Regions from separate parts of the Homo sapiens genome. Here region 1 is linked to region 2. The links come from fine-mapping of genetic effects on gene expression. A gene starts in region 2. The other region holds a variant in brackets. All regions are shown on one strand. Distances are between the middles of the regions.

Region 1 (11,408 bases), 41 kb after region 2:
TGGGTTGACAGCAGCTGTGAATCGCTGTTAGCAGCGTCCATATGCAGGTCCATGTCTGTGTGTTCCAGGCATGACTGGGTCTGGCTGGGGGGTGTTGGGTTCCTGCTCGAGGATAAGGGGCCCTTGCTGCTGCAGCCCACCCTCTGTGCCCAGAGCCTCCCGTGGGTCCCCTGCTCCAGGCCCAGCCCAGCCTCGCGGCCCCACCCCCAGGCTCTCCGGCACCTGTTTCTGTGTGGGGTGAGTGTCCCCCAGGGCAGCCCCTGGTGCCTCTTCTGGTCTCCTCCCCACCACACCCCAGCCCGAGCCTCCCCCCACCGCACCCCAGCCCGAGCCTCCCCCCAGCCTGAGCCTCCCCCCACTGCACCCCAGCCCGAGCCTCCCCCCACCGCACCCCAGCCCGAGCCTCCCCCCACCGCACCCCAGCCCGAGCCTCCCCCCACCGCACCCCAGCCCGAGCCTCCCCCCACCGCACCCCAGCCCGAGCCTCCCCCCAGCCTGAGCCTCCCCCCACTGCACCCCAGCCCGAGCCTCCCCCCACTGCACCCCAGCCCGAGCCTCCCCCCACCGCACCCCAGCCCGAGCCTCCCCCCACCGCACCCCAGCCCGAGCCTCCCCCCACCGCACCCCAGCCCGAACCTCCCCCCACCGCACCCCAGCCCGAGCCTCCCCCCAGCCTGAGCCTCCCCCCACTGCACCCCAGCCCGAGCCTCCCCCCACCGCACCCCAGCCCGAGCCTCCCCCCACCGCACCCCAGCCCGAGCCTCCCCCCACCGCACCCCAGCCCGAGCCTCCCCCCAGCCTGAGCCTCCCCCCACTGCACCCCAGCCCGAGCCTCCCCCCACTGCACCCCAGCCCGAGCCTCCCCCCACTGCACCCCAGCCCGAGCCTCCCCCCACCGCACCCCAGCCCGAGCCTCCCCCCACCGCACCCCAGCCCGAGCCTCCCCCCACCGCACCCCAGCCCGAACCTCCCCCCACCGCACCCCAGCCCGAGCCTCACCCCCCCAGCCCGAGCCTCCCCCCACTGCACCCCAGCCCGAGCCTCTCCTCCACTGCACCCCAGTGCCAGCCTCCCCCAACCGCACCCCGGCCCGAGCCTCCCCTCACCGCACCCCGGCCCGAGCCTCCCCCCACTGCACCCCGGCCCGAGCCTCCCCCCACCGCACCCCGGCCCGAGCCTCCCCCCACCGCACCCCGGCCCGAGCCTCCCCCCACCGCACCCCGGCCCGAGCCTCACCCCAGCCTGAGCCTCCCCCCACTGTACCCCAGCCCGAGCCTCTCCTCCACTGCACCCCAGTGCCAGCCTCCCCCAACCGCACCCCAGCCCAAGCCTCTCCCCAGCCTGTGCCCCTACACAGGACATTCCCCAGGTCCTGCTCGCCTCACTGCCCCTCGCCCATCCCTTGCCGCCTGTTCCTGGGGTGGGGGTGCTCCTTCACCCTTCCTGACATCACCCAGATCCCTTGCGTCTCTGCTGGGCTCCTGGGGCTCTCGGCACCCACAGCCCATCCCCATTCCCCAGGTGCTGCCCCCTTGCCCACCACCTGTCCTGTGAGGACCTCTCCACCTGCCGGGCATCCATCCCGGGTCCCCATGGGGCTGCAGGGACCATTGGGAACGCAGCTGTCCGGTAACAACACTCTCTGCCTGGCAGCCCGGGGGCTTCTGGGAAGCTCAGGATGAGCTCACGGCTCAGAAAAGCGCTTTGCAAACTCTGGCTGCTTTCAGGCAGGGAGGCAGGCAGCATTGACTGTTCTGCAGATGCGTTTCAGCAGGGGTCAGATGCCTCGGCCCATCCGGCACCACGGAGCCCCCACAGTTACTGGCATTGGGCAAAAAAGAGGGAGAGAGATGAGGGAGCGAAGGAGGGAGAGGGAGAGGGGGATTTCTTACAGGAAGTCTTTGGTTCACACCCAGCCAAGGCCAAGAAGAGCCACCTTCTGTCCCCTGGTCTGTGCTGAGGCCACAGCCCCCCCGGGAGGAGGAGCCTCCGCCCAGGGCCTGGGCAGGTGCAGGAGGGGCCGGCAGAGCCGCCCACAGACAGCCTTAGAGAGGGAGACTCAGCAGGAAGCTGTGCGCCAGGGTTCGGCCCTGCCCGGCTGCAGCACCAGAAGACACTGAGGCGGCGGCCCCAGGGCCCATACCAGGCACCTGGCCGGAACCCTGACAGAAGGGAGCCCAGTTTCCTGGGGAGCCGTGCCAGCCTCCCAGGGCTGCTGTGAGGAAGCAGCACACACAGCTTCAAAGGCCAGGACTCTGTCCCCTCCCAGCCCTGGAGCCTGGAAGTCCAAAGTCAAGGTGCGGACAGGGCCGCGCTCCTTCCGGCCCCTCCAGCATCTGGGGGATCCGGGCATCCCCTGGCTGTGGCCGCAGGGCTGGGATCTCTGCTTCTGTGTCCCGTGGCCTCCTCCCCGGGACTGTGTCTCCTTCGAATGAGGACACCAGGCACAGAACACCCGCTCGGCCAGTGCGGCCTTTTTTTTTTTAACCACTCACATCTGCAAGGACCGGATTCCCAAATAAGGCCACACACACAGCTTCCAGGTGCCAGGACATGATCACACCATTTTGGGGACACAGTTCAGCTCTGCACGGGGCACTCTAGTGACCAGGCCTGCTGAGGGGCCCTTCTCCCAGCCACCAAAGACTGGCAGTGTCTAGGAAGTGCCACCTGTGCCCCACGACCACCTGGAAGCCTCTTCTGTCTGCCCCCCAGCCCCCTCCAGGAGGAGCCCCTCCCATCCCCGTAGCCTGTTTCCCTCCCTGTAATGCAGGGCAGGGTTCCTGTGAGGGCTGAGGCAGCGGGCATTCAGCCAGGCTTACACGGAGCCCTCGGTCAGCGTTGCTGCGGGACTGGTCAGTGAGGGGTGCACCCTGGACAGAGGCGGAGGGAGAGACCGGGCCACGGGAGCCCAGGACTGGGCGCGGGGCGCCGGAGGTGGGTGGGGTAGTGCCCAGCAGGTCCCTAGGCGGCGCACCCCTATCCTCAGTCTGACCTGCTCCAGGGACCCTGGGCTGTGCTGTCACATTGGGGCCTGGGGAGCAAGTCGGAGTCTGTGCTTGTTCTTTCTGTTTCGTTGCTTTCCAGGTCTTTTAAAAACTGAGACAAAATTCACATACCACAAAATCCACTTTATTTATTTGAGACAGTATTTTGCTCTGTTGCCCAGGCTGGAGTGCAGTGGTGTGATCATAACTTACTGCAGCTTCCACCTCTCTAGCTCAAGTGATTCTCCTGCCATGGCCTCCTGAGCAGCTGGGACCACAGGTGCCCGCCACCATGCGCAGCTGGTTTTTGTATTTTTTGTGGAGATGGGATCTCACTATGTTGCCCAGGCTGGTCTTGAACTTCCTGGGCTCAAGCTGTTTGCCCACCTCAGCTTCCCAAAGTGCCGGGATGGCAGGTGTGAGCCACTACGCTCGGCCAAATCCACCTTTTTTTTTTTTTTTTTTTTTTTTGAGACAGAGTCTTGCTCTGTTGCCCAGGCTAGAGTGCAGTGGCACGATTTCAGCTCACTGTAACCTCTGCCTCCCGGGTTCAAGCAATTCTCCTGCCTCAGCCTCCCGAGTAGCTGGGATTGCAGGTACCCACCACCACACCTGGCTAATTTTTGTATTTTTAGTAGAGACGGGGTTTCACCATGCTGGCCAGGCTGGTCTTGAACTCCTGACCTCGTGATCCACCCACCTCGGCCTCCCAAAGTGCTGGGATTACAGGCGTAAGCCACCGTGCCGGGCCCAAATCCACACTTTAAAAAAGTATATTCACAGAGTTGTGCAACCACCACCTCTGTCTAGTTCCAGAACATTCCATCATCCCACAGGAAGCCCCGTTCCCATCAGCTGTCACTCCCCAGCCCATCCCCACCCCCTGATAACCTGAATGCTTTTCCTGTCTGTGTGGATTCCTGTTCAGGACAGGACATTTCATAGAAATGGCCTCACACACTGCGTGGCCTTCTGTGTTTGGCGTCTTTCACTGAGTGTGAGGTCCTCAAGGTGCATCCGTGCTGTGGCTTGGGTCAGAGCCTTGCTCCTTTTCATGGCTGGGTCGTGTTCCAGTGTGTGGACGGCCTCACTGTGCTGGCCCTGTTCCTCCGTGGTGACTGCGCTGCAGGAGCCAGGCTGTCATGAGCTGTGGGTCCACCTGGGAGCTGAGGGTCCACCCGGGAGCTGTGGGTCCACCCGTGAGCTGTAGGTCCTGTGAGCTGTGAGTCCACCCGTGAGCTGTGGGTCCAGGTGCCTATGAGCTGTGAGTCCACCCGTGAGCTGTAGGTCCTGTGAGCTGTGGGTCCACCTGTGAGCTGTGAGTCCACCCGTGAGCTGTGAGTCCACCCGTGAGCTGTGAGTCCACCCGTGAGCTGTGGGTCCTATGGGCTGTGGGTCCACCCATGAGCTGTGGGTCCAGGCGCCTATGAGCTGTGGGTCCACCCATGAGCTATGGGTCCTGTGAGCTGTGAGTCCACCCTTGAGCTGTGGGTCCTGTGGGCTGTGGGTCCACTCCTGAGCTGTAGGTTCAGGCTTTTGTGAGCTGTGGGTCCTCCTGATGGCACGTGGGAGTGCAGCTGCTGGGTTGTTACTCCCCATTCGCCTCTTTTGAGGAGCTGCAGGATGGTTCCCAGGCCACTGCCCCGCGTCCTCAGCAGCGCTTGTGGTTGTGGGTTTTTTGCGTGGAGCTGGTGTGGAGCTGTCTCTGGGAGTGGCTGTGATTGGCTGCTGGGTTGAGCGGTGGCTGTGATTGGCTACTGGGTTGAGCGGTGGCTGTGATTGGCTGCTAGGTTGAGCGGTGGCTGTGATTGGCTGCCGGATTGAGCGGCTCCGTGGGTTTCTTCCCCATTGGTTGTTTTCCATTGGCGGGCGGGGTGCCTGGCAGGCGGGCCCCTCGCCCCAGCGGCACGGACCCGTGTTGTCGCCCAGCCTCCAGGAGGTGATGGGTCGTGGCAAGGGGTGTGGGCGACAGTCTGCACCAGCCTCCGCTGCTGCGGTGCCTGGTCGCGGGGCCCCAGTGGGGCTGGCACAGGGCCTCAGGGTCTAGAACAGGGTGAGCCCGAGGGGGCGGAGTGCACAGGGTTTGAGGGCCCCCTGGTCCCACTCTCCCCTCAGAGCCCTGGCGGGAGTCTTACAAGCCCAGAACTGTCCCGAGCCCTCCGGCCCAGCCACGGGCTCCCCTGGCCTCTCGGGGCGGTTTCCTTCTTTCCCAGGGCCCCTGGCCACAGGGCCGGGCCCTTCCTCCCCTCACAGAGGAGGAGCCGTGGCCACCTGCGCGGTCTCGGCCGCGGTCTCGTGGGCAATGCGGCCTCTGCCCCGTCAGTCGCTGAGTACAGGCAGATGGGGCCCGTCCTCTCCACAGCCCGGCCGTCCTCCCACCCCCTCTGGCCCTGGGGCCTCCCCAGCTCCTCCAAGGACACCGAGAATGACCGCCTGTGGCCCAATGTGAGGTCCCATCAGGTGTCTGCCCCGCGGTGTCTAGGCCCCTGTGATGCGCCAGGGTCCTCACAGTGCGGGCAAGAGTGTGGCCGCGGGCGGGCTCGCGGCCCGGGGTTGCCCCAGCAAGTGCATCATTGACACTTGGTTTTCTACCAAAGCGAGAACGTTCTTTTCCCAGGACGCTACCACTTGTTCCTGCCCAGGGGGCCGAGGCCGGGTCTGGCCAGAGCCTGGAGAGGAGGGGCCCAGGCTCAGCTCTCCCTCCGCCAGCCCCAGATCAAGGGAGGCCACGGGGCCCGCTGAACCCCCTGGGCACGGACAGCAGGGAAAGAGCAGGGAGGGGACTTTGCTTCGGCGGCAGGGGCTTCTCGGGGACCTCAGCCTGCAGGGGTGGGGTGGGGAGAGCCCCAGGGGGGCGCAGCAGGGCCTGAGGTGCGCTTGGCATGCGTGGGGTGCTGGGTGAAGGGAGGCGGTCTTGGCCGCAGTTTCCCTGCCTGTGGTTTGGGGGCACCAGGAACAGCAGCTGGTCCCCGTGGAACGGAACCCAGCTCCCTGCAGTCTGGGGAGACCGAGGCCCATGCCCACCTGGGCATTCTGCACGTCCGCCGGGTGCCCCAAAGGGGGCTGGTCCTGCGGCGGGGCACGGGTGGGG[T/G]TGCGTGTTGACAGCGCCTGTGGGAGATCCGCCCCGTACAGTAATTCTCCTCGCACTGCCGGTAATTGCCCTGACTTACGGGGCCGGCATCATTTCCTGAAAGTCAGCCCCGGCCTTAGAGGAAGTAGGCGCCGGCGGCGGTGACTAAACCGACATGCAAATGCAGCCGGGCGGAGAGCCGCCCCCGTCCGCCCCGGCCGACCCAATGCTGGGGCTGCTGCCGCGGTCATGAGGGAGCCGCTCCCGGGCAGCGCTTCCTGGGGGACCCCTGGCCCCCCGAGCGCCGGGACCATGTCCCAGCTGCAGCTGTGGCTGCAGTTTGAGGCTCTGAACAAGGTAACACTCCCTTCCCGGGGCGGGCGAGGCCCTCGGGGGCAGGGGTCTGGGAGGTGGGACCCCATTCAGGACGGCCGGGCCCCCTGCCGGAGCAGCCGGCATCTCATCCTAGAGTCCGAGGCCGCCAGGATCTAAAAAAATCCCCACCCCGCCCCGTCCGTCTCTTCTGGCAGTGAGAGGGAATCTGCCGGAAGGTTCCGAGGCAGAGATTTAAGACTTCGGGCTGGGAGCGGCGCCCTGTGCGTAGGCTGGGGGACCCGAGCGGAGTGGGGGGGTCGGGCTCAGCCCTGCCCGGACGGGGGCCCTCAGTGACAGTGGCAGTGGCTGTCGGGAGGGCTGCGTCCCCCTCCTTCTGCCCCTGGGGTAGGACCCAGAGCTGTGGCTTTCCTCTGGAGAAGCCTCAGGTGGAGGGGCTCTGGGTGTCTTATGGGGCTCTTGTAGGGAGCGGAGGCTGGGTGGGCCTGGTCAGGGCTGGCTCTGGTGGCGCAGGCCGGCAAATCCCTGTGGCTCTGTGGCTCCCCATGGGTCCTGGAGCACAGGGCAGCGGCAGCACATCAGGTCTGGAGTCAGTTCTGGAGTCAGGTCTGGAGTTGGCTGCCCAGGGCAGGAGGAGCTGTGTCTGCTGCTTTTGAAGCGGGCAGAGCCAGGTCCTCCCAGCCAGGTCCTCCCAGCTCCCCACCTCAGCCCAGGGCTCCTGAAATGCTACAGAGACAAGAACCACAGCGGGCAGCCCCGGCCCTCCCTGGGGCCCCAGAACTGGGGGCTGGCGGGGAGGGATGCAAGTGTCACCCTTGAGGGGCCTTGGTGCTTGCCCTCACTACAGACTGCAGAGGGGCCCGGTTCCCTGGGGAGGCACTGGGTCCGCTGAGCTGAGGCTGGAGGGTGGGTGGGTCATGTGGTGAAGGATGCAGGAGCCTGGGCCGGCCTGGAGGGGCTGTGGAGGGACACACAGGCGCGGGTGGGACTTAGGCTGTCTCTGAGGTGAGCTGGTGGCTGCTAGGAGTCAAATCCAGATGTGGGCAGAGGACGGAGCCACTGTGGGGGGAGCTGGCCTGGCTCTGTTCAGCTTCCCACATGTGAACAGGGCCAGCCCTGGGAACCCCGTCTCCCTCTGTCCCTAATCGCTGAGGGCACCTGCTAGAAGTGAAGGCTTCGAGGGCTCATGCACCTGGTGGGGTGTCCTGTGCTGGGAAGGACCGGACGGGGAGCAGGGCGGGGCCTCGAGGCTGCGTTCTTGAAGCCTGAAAGCTGCAAGCACTCCCTCATTATTAGACTTTCACTTTTATTTATTTGTTTTTGTGACAGGGACTTGCTCTGTCACCCAGGCTGGTGTGCAGTGGCACGATCTCGGCTCCCTGCAACCTCCACCAACTGGGTTGAAGCAATCCTCCCACCTCAGCCTCCTGAGTAGCTGGGACTGCAGGCACATGCTGCCATGCCCAGCTAATTTTTAAACGTTCTGTAGACATGGAGTCTTGCTGTGTTGCCCAGGCTGGTCTTGAACTCCTGGGCTCAAGTGATTCTTTCACCTTGGCTCTAAAACAGTAGGATTACAGGCATGAGCCACTACGCCCTGCTTGACTTTTAACTTTTTTTTTGAGATAGGGTCTCGCTCTGTCTCCCAGGCTGGCGTGCAGTGGCGCAATTATAGCTCACTGCAGCCTCGACCACCTGGGCTCAACGGATCCTCCTGCCTCAGCCTCCTGAGTAGCAGACGTGAGCTCCCCCCTGCCCGACTTGACTTTAACTTTTCAAACTGTTTTAGAATGACAGAAAAGCTGCAGGGACAGTGCAGAGAGTCCCCGTGCACCCACTCCCGGGCTCCCTGCTGTTCTATCTCCCGTCTGTGGCTGTCACGGCTGATGAACCAACATCCGTACGCCACCGTTAACTCCTGAGGCCCACGCTTTGCTTGGATTGCCTCAGTTTCCCCCATGTCCTTTCCTGCCCAGGACCCCACGTGGTGTTTAGGCGTCTCCTCAGGCCCCTCTGGGCTGTGATGGTTTCTCAGAGGCCCGTGTTTCAGATGCGTTGGGCGGTCCTGGGGCTGGTCGGGTGGTGTGGATGCCCTGGAGTAGTCGGGCTGGTGTTTCCTCAGACTGGGGCAGGAGTTTTGGGTGGAGGACCCTGGGCGGGAGGACCCTGTTGTCCTGTCTTCTTGGGCCAAGGGCACCTGGTGAGGGCGTGGGGCAGGTGTCTCTGCCTGAGGTCCCTTCCCTCTGTCCACGCTGAGCTCCGGGGAAGGACTGGCCGTGTGACCCACGCATTTGGGTTTGGGGAGCTCTCCTCCGCTCTGCCTGCGCTCCCTGCACCACCAAGGCCTGGGCGGTTCTGGGCCCGATAGCAACTCACCCCCGCTCCTGGCTGGGGCCTTGACCAACTCAGGAGCCCCTGACCTTGCCCGGGAAATGCTTCCACGGAGGGTCCGGGCCACAGGTCAGCGTGACCAGGCCCTCTGCAGCCTGGGTGGGCAGTGTCCGGAGGGCCCTCGTGGGCCTCAGTGGGATGAATGCTCCCCAACCCTGCCGATCGGGGCCTCCAGAGGCTCTGGGAGGTGGACTGCTCCTACCCTCCTGGGGTGGGGGGTGCTGCACCCTACCTGGCTCTGGGCCTCAGGCGGGCAGCATGGACACCTCTGTCCCGGGGGTCTCTGTTTGGGGGCAGGTTCCTGAAGGTCCCTAGTGATCAGTGCCCAGGTGCTTGGGTCTGACAGGGTGGGCAGTGGGCAAAGCTGAGCAAGGTGAGGGGGACGGAACCCACAGCTTCCAGGGAGAGACAGCGCCCCCTTGACATGCCTGGTTTTTTTCTTTGTTTGTTTTTCTTGAGATGGAGTCTCCCTGTGTCACCCAGACTGGAGTGCAATGGCACGATCTCAGCCCACTGCAGCCTCTGCCTCCTGAGTTCAAGCAGTTCTCCTGCCCCAGCCTCTCGAGTAGCTAGGATTACAGGCACGCACCACCATGCCCAGCTAATTTTTGTGTTTTTAGTAAAGACAGGGTTTTACCATATTGGTCAGGCTGGTCTTGAACTCCTGACCTCAGGTGATCTGCCCACCTTGGCTTCTCAAAGTGCTGGGGTTACAGGCGTGAGCTACCATGCCCAGTCTATTTTTTTTTTTTTTGAGACAGAGTCTTGCTCTGTCACCCAGGCTGGAATGTAGTTGTGCAGTAACAGCTCACTGCAGCCTTGACCCCTCTGGGCTCAGGTGATCCTCCCGCCTCAGCCCCCCGAGTAGCTGGGACTACGGGCATGCACCACCACACCCAGCTAATTTTTGTATTTTTAGTAGAAATGGGGTTTTGCCATATTGTCCAGGCGAATCTTGAACTCCTGGACTCAAGCAATCTTCCACCTTGGCCTCCAAGTGCTGGGATTACAGGCGTGAGACATCACATGTGGCCGGACACGGTGGCTCACGCCTGTAATCCCAGCACTTTGGGAGGCCAAGGTGGATGGATCACCTGAGGTCAGGAGTTCGAGACCAGCCTGACCAACACGGTGAAACCCCGTCTCTACTAAAAATACAAAAATTAGCTGGGCGTGGTGGCACGTGCCTGTAATCCCAGCTACTCGGGAGGCTGAGGCAGGAGAATCGCTTGCACCTGGGAGGCAGAGGGTGCAGTGAGACGAGATCACACCATTGCACTCCAGCCCGGGCGACAGTGTAAGAATCCGTCTCAAAAAAAAAAAAATGAAATGATGTACATACATCTCCTTCACTGGGCAGCGCGTGTGTGTGTGTCATCCCCATGGCGAGCCCCACCTCTGGGCGTGGCTGCCCCCGCCCCTGCCTCCGGCACAGGGCATGGCACCAGGCTCACCCCAGACCCGAGCTGCTCAGAGTTCCTGCAGCATTGCTGCCCTTCAGGTGCTGCAGAAGTCAGACGCCGTCCTGCGTGGCCCTGAGGGTTGGTGTTTCTCACCCATTGCTTGTTTATTTTTTTCTTTTTTGAGACGGAGTCTCACTCTCTCGCTCTGTCACATGGTGGCTCACGCCTGTAATCCCAACACTTTTGGATGCCGAAGCAGGCAGATCACTTGAGGTCAGGAGTTCAAAACCAGGCTGGCCAACATGGTGAAACCCCGTCCCTAGTAAAAATACAAAAAAATTAGCTGGGCATGGTGGCGCACACCTGTAATCCCTGCTACTTGGGAGGATGAGGCAGGAGAATTGCTTGAACCTGGGAGGGCCGTGGTGTCTCCCATTCCCACATGCTCCAGTGTGTGGAGGGCCGTGGTGTCTCCCATCCCCACGTGCTCCAGTGCGTGGAGGGGCCTTGGTGTCTCCCGTACCACCCTCACCGGGCCTGGCCTTGTCTTCCAGGACTCCTCCTATTTTGAGGACTTCTCCAACATCTCCATCTTCTCCTCGTCCGTGGACTCCCTGTCGGACATCGTGGACACGCCCGACTTCCTGCCGGCTGACAGCCTCAACCAGGTGTCCACCATCTGGGACGATAACCCTGCCCCCTCCACCCACGATAAGGTCAGTGCGCCCGGTGCCCCCAGCCAGCCCCGACCCACCAGCGTGGCCTCCCCAGCCCGGGACCCACACGGTCCAGTGAGGTCTCAGTCTCCCCCACTCTGCGTGCCAATGGCTGTGCCTGTCACTGTCGGCGCCATCTGTGGCCATGGATGAGGTGGTTAGTTGAGGGTCCTCTTGTGTCCTGAATAGGAGAAGGCGACGTCCAGGACATCTGTGGCTACCACATCTGGGCGGTGCTCCTGGCATGGAGTTGGGGGGGGCCAGGATGCTGCCCAGCGCCCTGCAGTGCCCATTATGGCCCCACCTGAGAGGGACCCTGCCCCGTGTCCACCGCACCCGGGGAGTCCCTGGTCTAGAGAAGCACAGGAAGGTGACGGGACAGAGAAGCGTGGTCAGGAAGGGCCCCCTGGAGAGGCAGCGCCCAGCGGGCCCAGGCAATGTGGCTGTCCAGGCAGAGGAACAGCACCTGTGGTGGCATCCAGCCCCATGGTGCCTGGGTCAGCAGTGG
Region 2 (11,408 bases):
GTACTCGTCACGTACCTACAGTTGAATTTTAACTGGGTGTCTTGTGTTTGATCTGGCAACCCCACTTCCACAATTCTCTCGAAGGGGCTGGGAAGACATTTAGGAGGACCTGTATGGGATGGGGAAGAGGGAGGGTTTAGGGAGGAGAGTGTTGACGTCAAACACAGCCCCACCAGAAAACCTCCACAAATGTACAACTCTGTCCCCCAGGAGAGCTCTCCACCCTTCACATGGCACCGAGGACCTGGGCCTGGGCCAGAGCTGGAAGCCTGAGAGCTCTCTGCGGGGTGGGACTACTGGGGGACGGGGCTATCCACACCTCTGACCAGTTGAGCGTCTCCCCTGGGGGGCGGCTTCCAAAGTCTGAGCCAGGAGAGCTGGTGCCGGCCAGGGCCCTCACCCCATCTCTGCCCATCTGTGGCGTCAAAAATGCCTCCTCTCTTGAACTCCAACTGCAGCATTCATCCTTATTATTTTCTCATTGAACATCCACTTCAGTGACGCCATGGACTGGGCCGAGGAAAATCAAGAATTTCCCTAGGGTGGCTCAAGCCTGGAATCCCAGCAATATGGGAGGCCAAGGCAGGCGGATCACGAGGTCAAGAGCTCGAGACCATCCTGGTCAACATGGTGAAACCCTGCCTCTACTGAAAATACAAAAATTAGCCGGGCATGGTGGCACGTGCCTGTAATCCCAGCTACTTGGGAGGCTGAGGCAAGATAATCACTTGGACCCAAGAGGCAGGGGTTGCACTAAGTTGAGCTCATGCCCCTGCACTCCAGCCTGGGTGAAAGGGCCAGACTTCGTCTCAAAAAAAAAAAAAAAAAGAATTTCATTTGGAAATATTCGTAGTGGTTAAATTCTATTAGGCACTGTCTGTCCATTGAGTTGTCTGAACAACCTAGCAGCTAGTTGCTATTATTATTATTATCATTATTATTATTTTTTTTGAGACAGAGTCTTGCTCTGTTGCCCAGGCTGGAGTGCAGTGGTGCGATCTCAGCTCATTGCAACCTCCGCCTCCCGGGTTCAAGCGATTCTCCTGCCTCAGCCTCCGGAGTGGTTGGGACCACAGGTACGTACCATCATGTCCGGCTTATTTTTGTATTTTTAGTAGAGACAGGGTTTCACCATGTTATCCAGGATGGTCTCAATCTCTTGACCTCGTGATCTTCCCGTCTCAGCCTCCCAAAGTGCTGGGATTACAGGTATAAGCCACCGTGCCCGGCCACTAGTTGCTATTATTATCACCCTCCCCATTTTATAGGTGGGAAAACCGGGGCACAGAGAGGTTAAGTAACTCTCCTTGGGTCACACAGCAGATTCACAGCACTGTACTCCAGGCTGGGCCATGAGCCCCAGTACTGTGTCCCTGCTGCTTTCCGGAGCCACCCCCTGTGATTCCCTGGAAATCCCCGCATCTGACTAATTCCCTAAGCATCCCCCAACTTGGCAGATTCCTGCCTGCTGAGATGGCTGGACCCACCCCGGCCTGGGCAAACTGCCCCCACTTTAGGCAAAATCACCCATCGAGACCTTGTGGTTTCCCGAGGTGGATGTGGCAGAGATCGAGCCCACGCCTCTTCCTAGCTCACTTGGTGACCTCAGGGCAGCTTCTGAACAGTTCGTGCCTCAGTTTCCTCCCTCGTGAAATGCAGGTAATACCAGTCGCTACCCCAGAGGGCCGCTGTGGGAGCAGGGCCGGCGTCGTGGGTGTGTGTGACTCGGGGCTTCGCCCACCGCCTGCACTCAGAAGGTCCCGGCGCTCAGCGTGATGCTTTGCTGTTGCCTAACCCAAGCTATGAAATATGTTTTGTGCCGGGGCACCGTGTTTTCATTTCCACTGATCCTCAAAAGTTGTGTGGATGGTCCAGTGTGGGAGGAAATGAGCAGATGCAGCCGCCACCCTCCAGTCCCCAGGCTGGCTTCCTCACCCTTCCAAATCTTTAGTGCCTATTGCTCAATTTAACTGCTGTTCAATTTGCTGTGAAAAGAGTCTCAGCCAGGCACGGTGGCTCATGCCTGTAATCCCAGCACTTTGGGAGGCCGAGGCAGGCAGATCACCTGAGGTCAGGAGTTTGAGACCAGCCTGACCAACATGGAGAAACCCTATTTCTACGGAAAATACAAAATTAGCTGGGCATGGTGGCACATGCCTGTAATCCCAGCTACTTGGCAGGCTGAGGCAGGATAACCACTTGAACAGGGGAGGAGGAGGTTGCAGTGGGCCAAGATTGCGCCAATGCACTCCAGCCTGGGCAACAGGAGTGAAACTCCATCTCAAAAAAAAGAGAAAATAGTCTCAAAGTTGAGATGAGCACCCAGTTTGCCAAAACCGGGAGGCAGAGGTCATGCCATTGCACTCCGGCCTGGGAGACACAGCAAGACTCCATCTCAAAAAAAAGGAGATTTGGCCGGGTGCGTTGGCTCACGCCCGTAATCCCAGCACTTTGGGTGGCCGAGGCGGGCGGATCACGAGGTCAGGAGATCGAGACCATCCTGGCTAACACGGTGAAACCCCGTCTCTACTAAAAATACAAAAAATTAGCCGGGGTGGTGGCGGGCGCCTGCAGTCCCAGCTACTCAGGAGGCTGAGGCAGGAGAATGGCATGAACCTGGGAGGTGGAGCTTGCAGTGAGCTGAGATTGCGCCACTGCACTCCAGCCTGGGCGACAGAGCCAGACTCCGTCCCAAAAAAAAAAAAAAAAAAAAGAGATTCAGTGTGGAGGGAAGTATCTCTGTCGGGTCCGGCTGCTCTGCGGGACTCTGAGGAAAAGCTCACAACAGGTGGACGCCGTTCTGTCACCATGGGTAAAGGAGACCCCCAATGAGCTGAAGGACAAAATGTCCTTGTGCGCCTTCTGCATCTCACTCTGGACATATCACTTCTGCCTTCTGGGTCTGAGTTTCCCCATCTGCCCCCTTGTGCTTTTGGGTTTGATGACAGGGGTCCTTGGCCTGAAATTTTTTTTTTTTTTTTTTTTTTAGACGGGGTCTTGTCATGTCACCCAGGCTGGAGTGCAATGGCGCGATCTCAGCTCACTGCAACCTCCGCCTCCCAGATTCAAGTGATTCTCCTGCCTCAGCCTCCTGAGTAGTCAGGATTACAGGCACCCACTACCACGCCTGGCTAATTTTTGTATTTTTAGTAGAGACAGGGTTTCACCATGTTCGTCAGGCTGGTGTTGAACTTCTGACCTAGGTGATTCACCCACCTCAGCCTCCCAAAGTGTTGGGATTACAGGCGTGAGCCACCGTTTTTTGTTTGTTTGTTTTTTTGAGACCGAACCTCACTCTATCGCCCAGGCTGGAGTGCAGTGGTGTGATCTCAGCTCACTGCAACCTCTACCTCCTGGGTTCAAGCGATTCTCCTGCCTCAGCCTCCCTAGTAGCTGGGAATACAGGCAGGCACCACCATGCCCAGCTAACTTTTTTGTACTTTTAGTAGAGATGGGGTTTCACCATGTTGGCCAGGCTGGTCTCAAACCGCTGACCTCAGGTGTTCCTCCTGCCTCAGACTCCCGTAGTGCTGGGATTACAGGCGTGAGCCACCGTGCCTGGCTTTTGGCCTCAGTTTTTTAGAGAGGTGCTAAAATATCTTAAACCTGCTTATTATCTGCCTTACCAGGCCTTCTTTGCCCGGACTGTTCTTCCTACTCTTGTCTACCTGGTACACTCCTACTTGAACTTCAAAACCCCAGCTTCAACACACTCTTCAGCATGCAGCCCTCTATGAAGCCCTAGGCAGACATTTCAACCCTCCCAGAGATCCCGCATATTGGAGTGTCTGGTCCTGGTTCTCTCTCCCCTAGACCAGGGGCTTTCTGATGTTGGGACAGACAGCTGAGTCCTCTGTGAGACCCTGGGTTTTCCCAGCTCATGACCAAGCACAGAGCAGCATCGATTAGAAGTCACTGAATGAATTAACAAAGTCATGGAGAAATCAACTCTAGTTTCAGGGGGTTGGAATGGGGGCAGAGGCCTCTGGCTTGTGGCTGCTTGGGTCCAGGGAGCTGTATCAGTATTGTCATGGCTGAAATTGGGCTGGGGAGGCGGTGGTGCCTCCCACACTGGATCTGCCTTCACTGGCTCAAGTCACAGGAAAAGTGCCCTGAGACTCCAGCTCCCCACGCAGGGCAGCCTCCCACCACAGCCACCGAGAGGAGGAGCCCCTCAGGCCCCCGTGGCCCTGCCTGAAAGGATCCTGCTCTCTTGGGGGTAGCCCCTGGGACTTACCCAAACCCCCATGTGCCAGTCACCATGCTGAAGCGTCCAGAACTGTATTTGGTTAGGGAGAGAGATTAATGAACAGAGATAACTTTTCGTGAGAGAGTATGTCTGACAGGCCCAGAGGTGATGATTTTATTTCATTTTATTTTATTTCGTTATTTATTTATTTATTTTTGAGATGGAGTCTCACTCTGTTGCCCGGGCTGGAGTGCAGTGGTGCGATCTCAGCTCACTGCAATAACTACCTCCCAGGTTCAAGCGATACTACTGCCTCAGCCTCCTGAGTAGCTGGGATTACAGGTGCCCGCCATCACGCCCAGCTAATTTTTGTATATTTAGTAGAGACGGGGTTTCATCATATTGTCCAGGTTGGCCTCAAACTCCCGACCTCAAGTGATCCATCCGCCTCAGCCTCTCAAAGTGCTGCGATTACAGGCGTGAGCCACTGCGCCCGGCTGGTGATCGTCTTAGTAGCTTTTGAGGGAGTCTCAGTTTAAAAGTCTCGGGTGAGTGAGCCCCAGTGGGGGACGTGGCACATGCAGAGGCTTGGAGGGGGTTCTGAGGAAGGAGGAAAAAAGGGGATGCTGTACCACAAAGCAGATTCCATTTCACCAGCACGGTGCAGAAGAGGAAACTGAGGCTTGAGGAGGTGAAAGCACATGCTGGGGTCTCAAGAGAACCAGGCAGGGCGGGATTCGAACCCAGAGCCGTAGGAGTCCCAGCCCCTTCCGAATAGCGGAAGGACCTCAAGGGATTGGCTTGGAAGGTGGCCCCGCCCCCGAACCGAGACCACGCCCCCGCAGGTGGAGGCCCCGCCCCGCGGCATGACCGGAAGTGCGCGGGGCCCCCAAGATGGCGCCCGAAACCCGGAAGTGAGCGGCGGCAGCTGCGAGGCTCGGAGAAACAGGCGCCGCGGGCTCCGCGCCCGGCCGGACCCGGGCCCGAGGTGAGGCTCTGGTTGCGACCCCCGCCCCGGCTCCACCGCGACCCCTGCCTGGCCCGACCCCGCTTGTGGGTCCGGCGCTCCCCGCGGACCCCTGCGCCCGGGGCTGGGGGTTCTGGGGGCCGTGGGGCGGGGGCGAGCGCGGCGGGACCCCCGCCCTCCGCCGCGACCCCTTCCGACCCCGCCCTTCGCCGCCAACGTTGACCCCGCGCTGCCCCGCGACCACCGCCGTGAACCTTGACCTGCCCCCCCGCCCCCCGGCGACCCCCTGCCGTGAACCTTAACCCTACCTTCCACGACAACCCTCCCAACCTTTCCTTCCCGCTCTTCCGGGTGACTCCCTGTACCGCGCAGCTTGGTGACCCCCGACCTTTCGTTTTCTGGTAACCCTTGACCCCGCACTCATCGGTGCCCCCGAGCCCCTTGGTGACCCCGCACCCGCTTTTCCTCGGTATCCTGGCCTTCCCTTTTGGGGACTCTCGACTCCATGCGCCTCGTGACCTCGACCCCTTCCTGGGAGTGACCCCCGGTCTCTCCCGCCGCCCCGATTCCTGACTCCAGGCTCCTCGGGCGTTCGTGCCCCTTCCTCCTCCTTGTCCCCGGTCCCAGGACCCTTGCCTTCTCGGCCCCGCAGCGCAGCCCTGTCTCCCTCCCTCCCCTTGCTCCCCGCCCCTCCCGCTCCTGGGGCCTCCGACTTCTCTTCTGGGGCAGATGGTTTTTCGGTTTCTGCATGGAGGTCCCCCGGTTTGGGATGGGGGCTTGCTGATATTAGGTGACCCCGGGGCCGTCTGGGCGGAGTCTGCAGAGCGTGTTGGGGGTGGGAGTGCGGGTCGCATTCAAACCCGGCTTCCAGGGACAGGCGGGAGGGAGGGTAGCGGGCTGAGATGGCCCGAGTGGGGCCCGGGAGCAGCGTGTGTCGGTGAAGGGGAAGCGCAGGCCTCCTGGTGGGTCCTGTCCCCCGTAGGGCACTCTTCCCACCACCCCAGAGTCCCGAAGAATAAGGCAGGTGGGGCCTGGAGGGACCAATCCCCAGACTGACCTGGGGCGTGGGGGGCAGGCGTTGTGGAGAGCCCACCCAGCGCCTCCAGGGACGCCGGGCACGGATGGTGCTGGGGCAGGGACGGTGGGTGTCTCCCTGGATGAACTGATTAACATTCTGAAAAGTTAAAAAAAAAAAAAAAAAATCTCTTAAATGTGTAGCCGGGGCCTCCCCTGGCTGCTTCTTCCCGGAATGCCTGTTGTTCCCGCCTGCTCAGAACGTCCTTCCTGCCTGTGACTGCTGGGACGGGACGGGATAGGTTTGGTGCCATCTGTTGCACGCCCTGTCAGCGAGAGTGCCCGGCCTCGGAGCTGGCCTGTGCTGATGCTGGCTGCCAGTTTGCCGGGGCGGGGGGGGCGGTTGCAGTGAGTGTTTTACAGAGGGGCAGAGGAAGCCGAGGTTCAAGAGAAGAGCATGGGAGGGGCCGAGGACCCAGGGCCGCAGACCCCGTGGGCAGCCAGCCCGATTACACGGGGATTACAGGCTTCAAACTTTCTTCCAGGCCTCTTCCTCCGGGCCAGGGCAGCCGGCACTGCTTCCTGACTGAGGGGTGCTGTGCTGTTTCGGGTGCCCTCCCTGGGATGTCTCTCCCTGACTCGGCCCTGGAAGAGGAGCAGCGGGGACATGGGACCCAGAGAGTTTGTGGCAGGCCCAGCAGGTGCCGTCCACGCCCTTTCTTCCCAGACATCCTCTGGCCTTCAGGGATCTGGCTGCCCGGCCCCAGATTTTCCCAGGGGTGACCCTGGTCGTGGGGTGATGGCTTCTCACAGTGGCCTGCTCCGGGCCACCTTCAGAGTTCTTGCCGAGAAAGGGCGAATTTGAGATCTGGACCCCTTGGTGGGTGGGATGGAGAACAGCAGGATGGGGGCCTCAGGGCCTCCCACGGCAGGGGAGACGGCAGAGGAGACGCAGGCAGGCTCTCGTCCTTGGAGAGGGAAGGACTTGGAAGGCGCCTGCCAGCCCCTGGAGTGTGATTTCAGAGCACAGGGAGGAGGCTTTTGTTTAACTCTGAGGATCCCGGCAGACATCTGCCCACACCTGCCAGGAGCCAGGAGGGCCCTGGTGTGGAGGGGGCTGTGCAGGCAGGGGCTGGACTTCAGGGGGAGGGAGCCTGTCAGAGCACAGAAGAGGCAGCAGGAGCTTCCCTCATCCATTCACTCTCAGTTTGCTTTGGGGTCTGGCCTCTCCGTTCATCCATTCACTCTTGGTTGGCTTTGGAGTCTGGGCTAGACAGGAGGCACCCAGGTGTGCAGGTGCGGAGGAGAGGGTGCATGTTCTCCAGCCGCGTGACCATGGGCAGTCACTGCCCTCTCACCTGGCGGGGAAACCGAGGTGGAGAGAGGTTGCGCCAGCCACCCCTAGACCCCCCACCCACTTGCTGCCTAAGGCCTCCCCCAACCCCAGGGGTGTGAGGGGTGTGACCAGCTTGGGCTTGGCCCAACCCGGCTCCAGCGGAGTCACGGATGCCCCTCCGGCAGGGCCCATGCGGAAACGCCAACACCGCCAGAGTGAGCTCTGCCCCGAACAAAGAGGCGACTGTGTCGACAGAACCAGTCCGGCTCCCAGAGGCCCCCTCCCAGGGGGCCCCCATGCTGGGGGGTGGGATCAGCTCTGGGAAGGGGGCGGTATCATGTAATCCACAGCTGTAAACACTCCTGGAGGCGGTGTGGAGGCAGCCCCCCATGACGCCAGCGCTGCCCTGGGGACTCTGCATGTGTGTGTACACGTGTCTTTGTGTATCTGTATGTTGCGCCATGTGCATGCACATGTGTGTTGTGTGCCTGTGTGTTGTATGGATGTGTGTATTCTTTGTGTGCATTGTACGTACGCACGTGCATTCTGTGTGTGCGTCGTACGGACGTGTGCGCGTTCTGTGTGTGTGTTGTACGGATGTGGGTGCGTTGTGTGTGTGTGAATGTGCGTGCCTGTGGCTGTGTGCTCCTGTGCATGTGTGTGTTGCTCGTGTGTTTCATACGCGTGTGTTTTATGGGTGCACATTGTGTGCGTGTCTGTGCATCCGTGTTTGTGTGTTGTGTGTGCCTGTGCACCCGTGTTTGTGTTGTGTGTGTGCCTGTGTGTACCCATGTTCATGAGTCGGTTATGTGTGTCTGTATTTTGTGTGTTGCCCGTGCCTGTGTGCCTGTCCTCGTATGTTGTGTGTGTGTATTTTGGTGGTTGTGTGTATTTTGTGTGTGTGCTCATGTGTGTGTTGCCTGTGCCCATGTGCCCATGCTTGCGTGTGTTGCTCACACATGTATTTTGTGTGTGTTTGTGTTGTGGGTGCATGTGTATGACCTTTGCACCCGTGCTCATGCAAACGTGTACTTTGTGTGCATGTTGTGTGTGCCCGCATGTTGCCTGTGCACCTGTGTCCGTTATGCACGTGTCCGTTGTGTGTGTTGTGTGCGTGCTGCGTGTTCTCATGCACCCCTGCTTGTGCATGTCTTGTGCACGTGTGTTTTGTATGTGTGCGTGTGTTGTGTGCACGTGTGTGGCCTGTCCCTGTGTGCATGTGTGTGTGATTTGTTGCGGGCAGGCCTGGAATACCTCCAGTCACTTTTTCCACAGCCGAGGGCTGTGTGGTCAGACAGCACACGGGGAGGGCTGGGTGTGTCCAGCTGCCGGGTTGAAGCCTAAAAGCGAGGTCACCCCAACCTGGTTCTCGTCCTGGCCTGCCCGCTGTCCGCCCGGCAGTGTGGGTGGACTCTCAGCCTTGCCCCTCGCCTCTGCACTCTCGCCCCCAACCCCCGGGAGGTTGGCCGGCACCTGCACCCTCGGGCTGGGACGAAGAGCAGACTGCCAGCCCCGTGGTCACCTTGCCTCCCTGCTGGGAGGTGTGGTCACCCGTCACAGGGCCCAGGACTCAGGAGAGGGCTCAGCCCTGCGGGCGAAGGCAAACCTGGGGTTCTGGCCAAGACGGGGATTTCGGATGCGTGGGCCCCATCAGCTCTCGCCCTGGGCCTCCTGGGCCCCGTGAGGAGGCGGAGATTAGATCTGTCGTCTGTGCGCCCGGCATGGATGCTCTGCGGAGACGTGCTTGCGGAGAGACGCCAGACGCAAAAGGCCACGGCACGTGACTCCGTTCATGTGACGTGTGCAGAGCAGGGCAGTCCACAGATGGGGGGTAGACGTGTGGTCACGTGTCCAGAGCAGGCCAGTCCACAGAAGAGAAGTGGGCGTGTGGTTGCAGGGGCTGTAGAGGCGGGGGAGTGACTGCTGTTGGGGACACGGCTGTGTTTTGGGGGAGCGGAATGTTTTGGAATTAGAAGCTGTGGTGGTCTGCCTTAGAATACGTTGAAACCGTTGAGTCATATGCTCCGGACAGGTGCCCCTCCTGGTGTGGATTGTATCTCAGGGAAAATAAAAGTGTTTAACAGAAAGTAAGACCTCCCTGTCCTTCGGAATCCCCAGTTGTCACCACAGGGTTGAGCACGGTGTCCCCGGGAACTGGTCAGGCAGCCTGCAGCCAGCTTGCATCAAGGGGTGATGGGCAGCTGTCCTGTCTCAACCCGTAGGACGGCAACAGTGATGGCATCACCCCACCCCCCGGGGGCCCCTCGCCCAGGCCCAGCTCTGCCCCTGAACCACTCACTGCTTCGGAGGGGCAGGGAATGCTGCATTCTACTCGAAGGGGCCCTACGGGGCTCTTGGCATGAGGGGGACAGGCCTTGGGCCACATGGGTGGCACACAGGGGCCAGTCAGCCTGAGGGTGCCTGGTGGTCCAGGCGGAGGCCCCGTGAGAGCTCAGCATGGCAGCGTGGCCCTGAAGCTCAGTCCCACGGAGGCCTCAGCCTGGGGCCGCACTCGTGCCCTGTGCCCTGGCTCTCCTGCGGATTCCCCTGGGCCTCTTGCCCTGGACAACCCCATGAGTGATGGGGTGGGAGGAGGGGCCCAGAGAGTCATTGCCGAGTCATCTCCCCTGCAGGCACTGTCCCGGGCAGCCTCGTGCAGTGCAGGGCATGGGAGTGCTGGGCCCTGGCTGGGGTCAGCAGATCGGACTGGCGGGCCTGGTGCCGCTGTCTCAGTGACCTGCTTTGTGACTCGTGCCCGTGCTTCCCGGAGCCTTGTGATTGACCTCCATCCCCAGCAAGAACAAGCGTCCAAGTGAAACCGAAAGAGGCGGCCTTGGCCTTGGTTCCAGGCCCCGCTGCGTTTTGAAAGTGATGTGCGCCAGGTTCCGGAAGGCGGCTCACTCGCGTTTCCTGGGAGTCTCTGCCGCTGTGGGCTCCTGGGGCCAAGGCCCTGGGTGCTGGGGCGTGGGGAGGGGGAGCCGGTGAGCCTTCGGGCCTGGCGGGCAGTAAACGTTTCTGGAACTGACTCACTTGCTGGGGAGGGGCAGCCAGGGAGGGTCACGGAGAAAGTCCCTGCCCGCCATGGCCCCGGACCGCCGTCGGCTGCCCGTCCAGCCTGGAGTGAGGAGGCGTCTTCCTTTGCATGTCAGGTAAACTGAGGAAAGCTGCCTCTGGGGTCTGCTGCGCTCGCCGCCTGGCTTCCGGTGCCCAGGGGCCGGGTGGAATGGGTCGCGGGACCCACGCTGGTGACCGCAGCCTCCCTACGCTGTGAGAGGGCCAGGCTTCGTGGGGACAGACAGCCGCCAGGGTGCCTGGAACCCATGGGTGTGAGGGGGGTTCCAAGGCCACGGGGGACGGTGAGGAGCTTCTCAGGGCGGCATCACTGTGACCAGAATGTTTTCACTGGTGGGGCAGGGGCCCAGCCCCGGAAGCTACCGGGTGGGTCTCACTCAGCTGGGCGCTGGGGCCCTGGTGGAGAATGGCTGTCGGTGTTGCCCGGGTGTGGCTGGGCTGACCGGGGCATTTTCGGGGGCTTTTATCAGATCCTGGAATGACTGCTACCCGCCAGGAGCTTGGGGGAGCTGCGAGCCCCCAGGTGGATGCAGGAGCTCTCGGGGTGGCCCTGAGGTCTGGGCACCCAACGCTGCCCCGGGGTGGGGGTGTGGATGCTTGAATTGCTTGCCGACTTTGGAACACCAGGGGCTGCCACCCTCAAACGCAGACTTGTGGCTTCTCTTGAAAAACCAGATGATCTAGAAACCCTGGCCACATTCCTGCCCACAAGTCTCCGCTGCCCCTCCCCAGGGGTGCACCTGTGTGGCCCCCTCCCCCAGCTCTGGTGAGGCGGCTCCTGCCCCACTTGGAGGATGTGGGAGGGGTGGGGAGGTTACACTGAGAGGGGG

Which allele goes with the higher level. Alleles are on the strand shown, and positions count from the first base shown. SD is a standard deviation of normalised expression in the study named.
For the expression in monocytes after Pam3CSK4 of the gene that starts at base 5,081 in region 2, allele T in region 1 goes with a higher level than allele G (moderate effect, 0.49 SD a copy in Quach 2016).

What was found. PIP is the estimated chance that this variant, and not a neighbour inherited with it, causes the effect.
Region 1: its variant is fine-mapped to the expression of SBNO2 in monocytes after Pam3CSK4 (Quach 2016, PIP 0.92).

The regions. Positions count from the first base shown.
Region 1 is chr19:1,127,096-1,138,503 of GRCh38, reverse strand. SBNO2 (strawberry notch homolog 2) reads left to right here. Exons shown (of 32, transcript NM_014963.3): 5 at 10,739-10,900. Among named protein-coding and RNA genes, the nearest start is that of GPX4, 29 kb to the right of the region's middle. RefSeq lists enhancers at 3,797-4,296, 4,297-4,798, 4,817-5,480, 6,809-7,473. The variant T/G (reference allele first, on the strand shown) is at 6,079.
Region 2 is chr19:1,167,941-1,179,348 of GRCh38, reverse strand. It overlaps SBNO2 (strawberry notch homolog 2), which reads left to right and starts at 5,081. Exons shown (of 32, transcript NM_014963.3): 1 at 5,081-5,177. LOC102725180 (collagen alpha-1(VII) chain) reads right to left here and starts at 10,516. Exons shown (of 3, transcript XR_005647046.2): 1 at 9,113-10,516; 2 at 5,465-6,330; 3 at 4,356-4,789. LOC102723798 (a long non-coding RNA gene) reads right to left here. Exons shown (of 4, transcript XR_007067079.1): 4 at 10,609-11,408. RefSeq lists enhancers at 766-1,965, 4,721-4,770, 6,155-6,713 and a silencer at 4,911-5,220.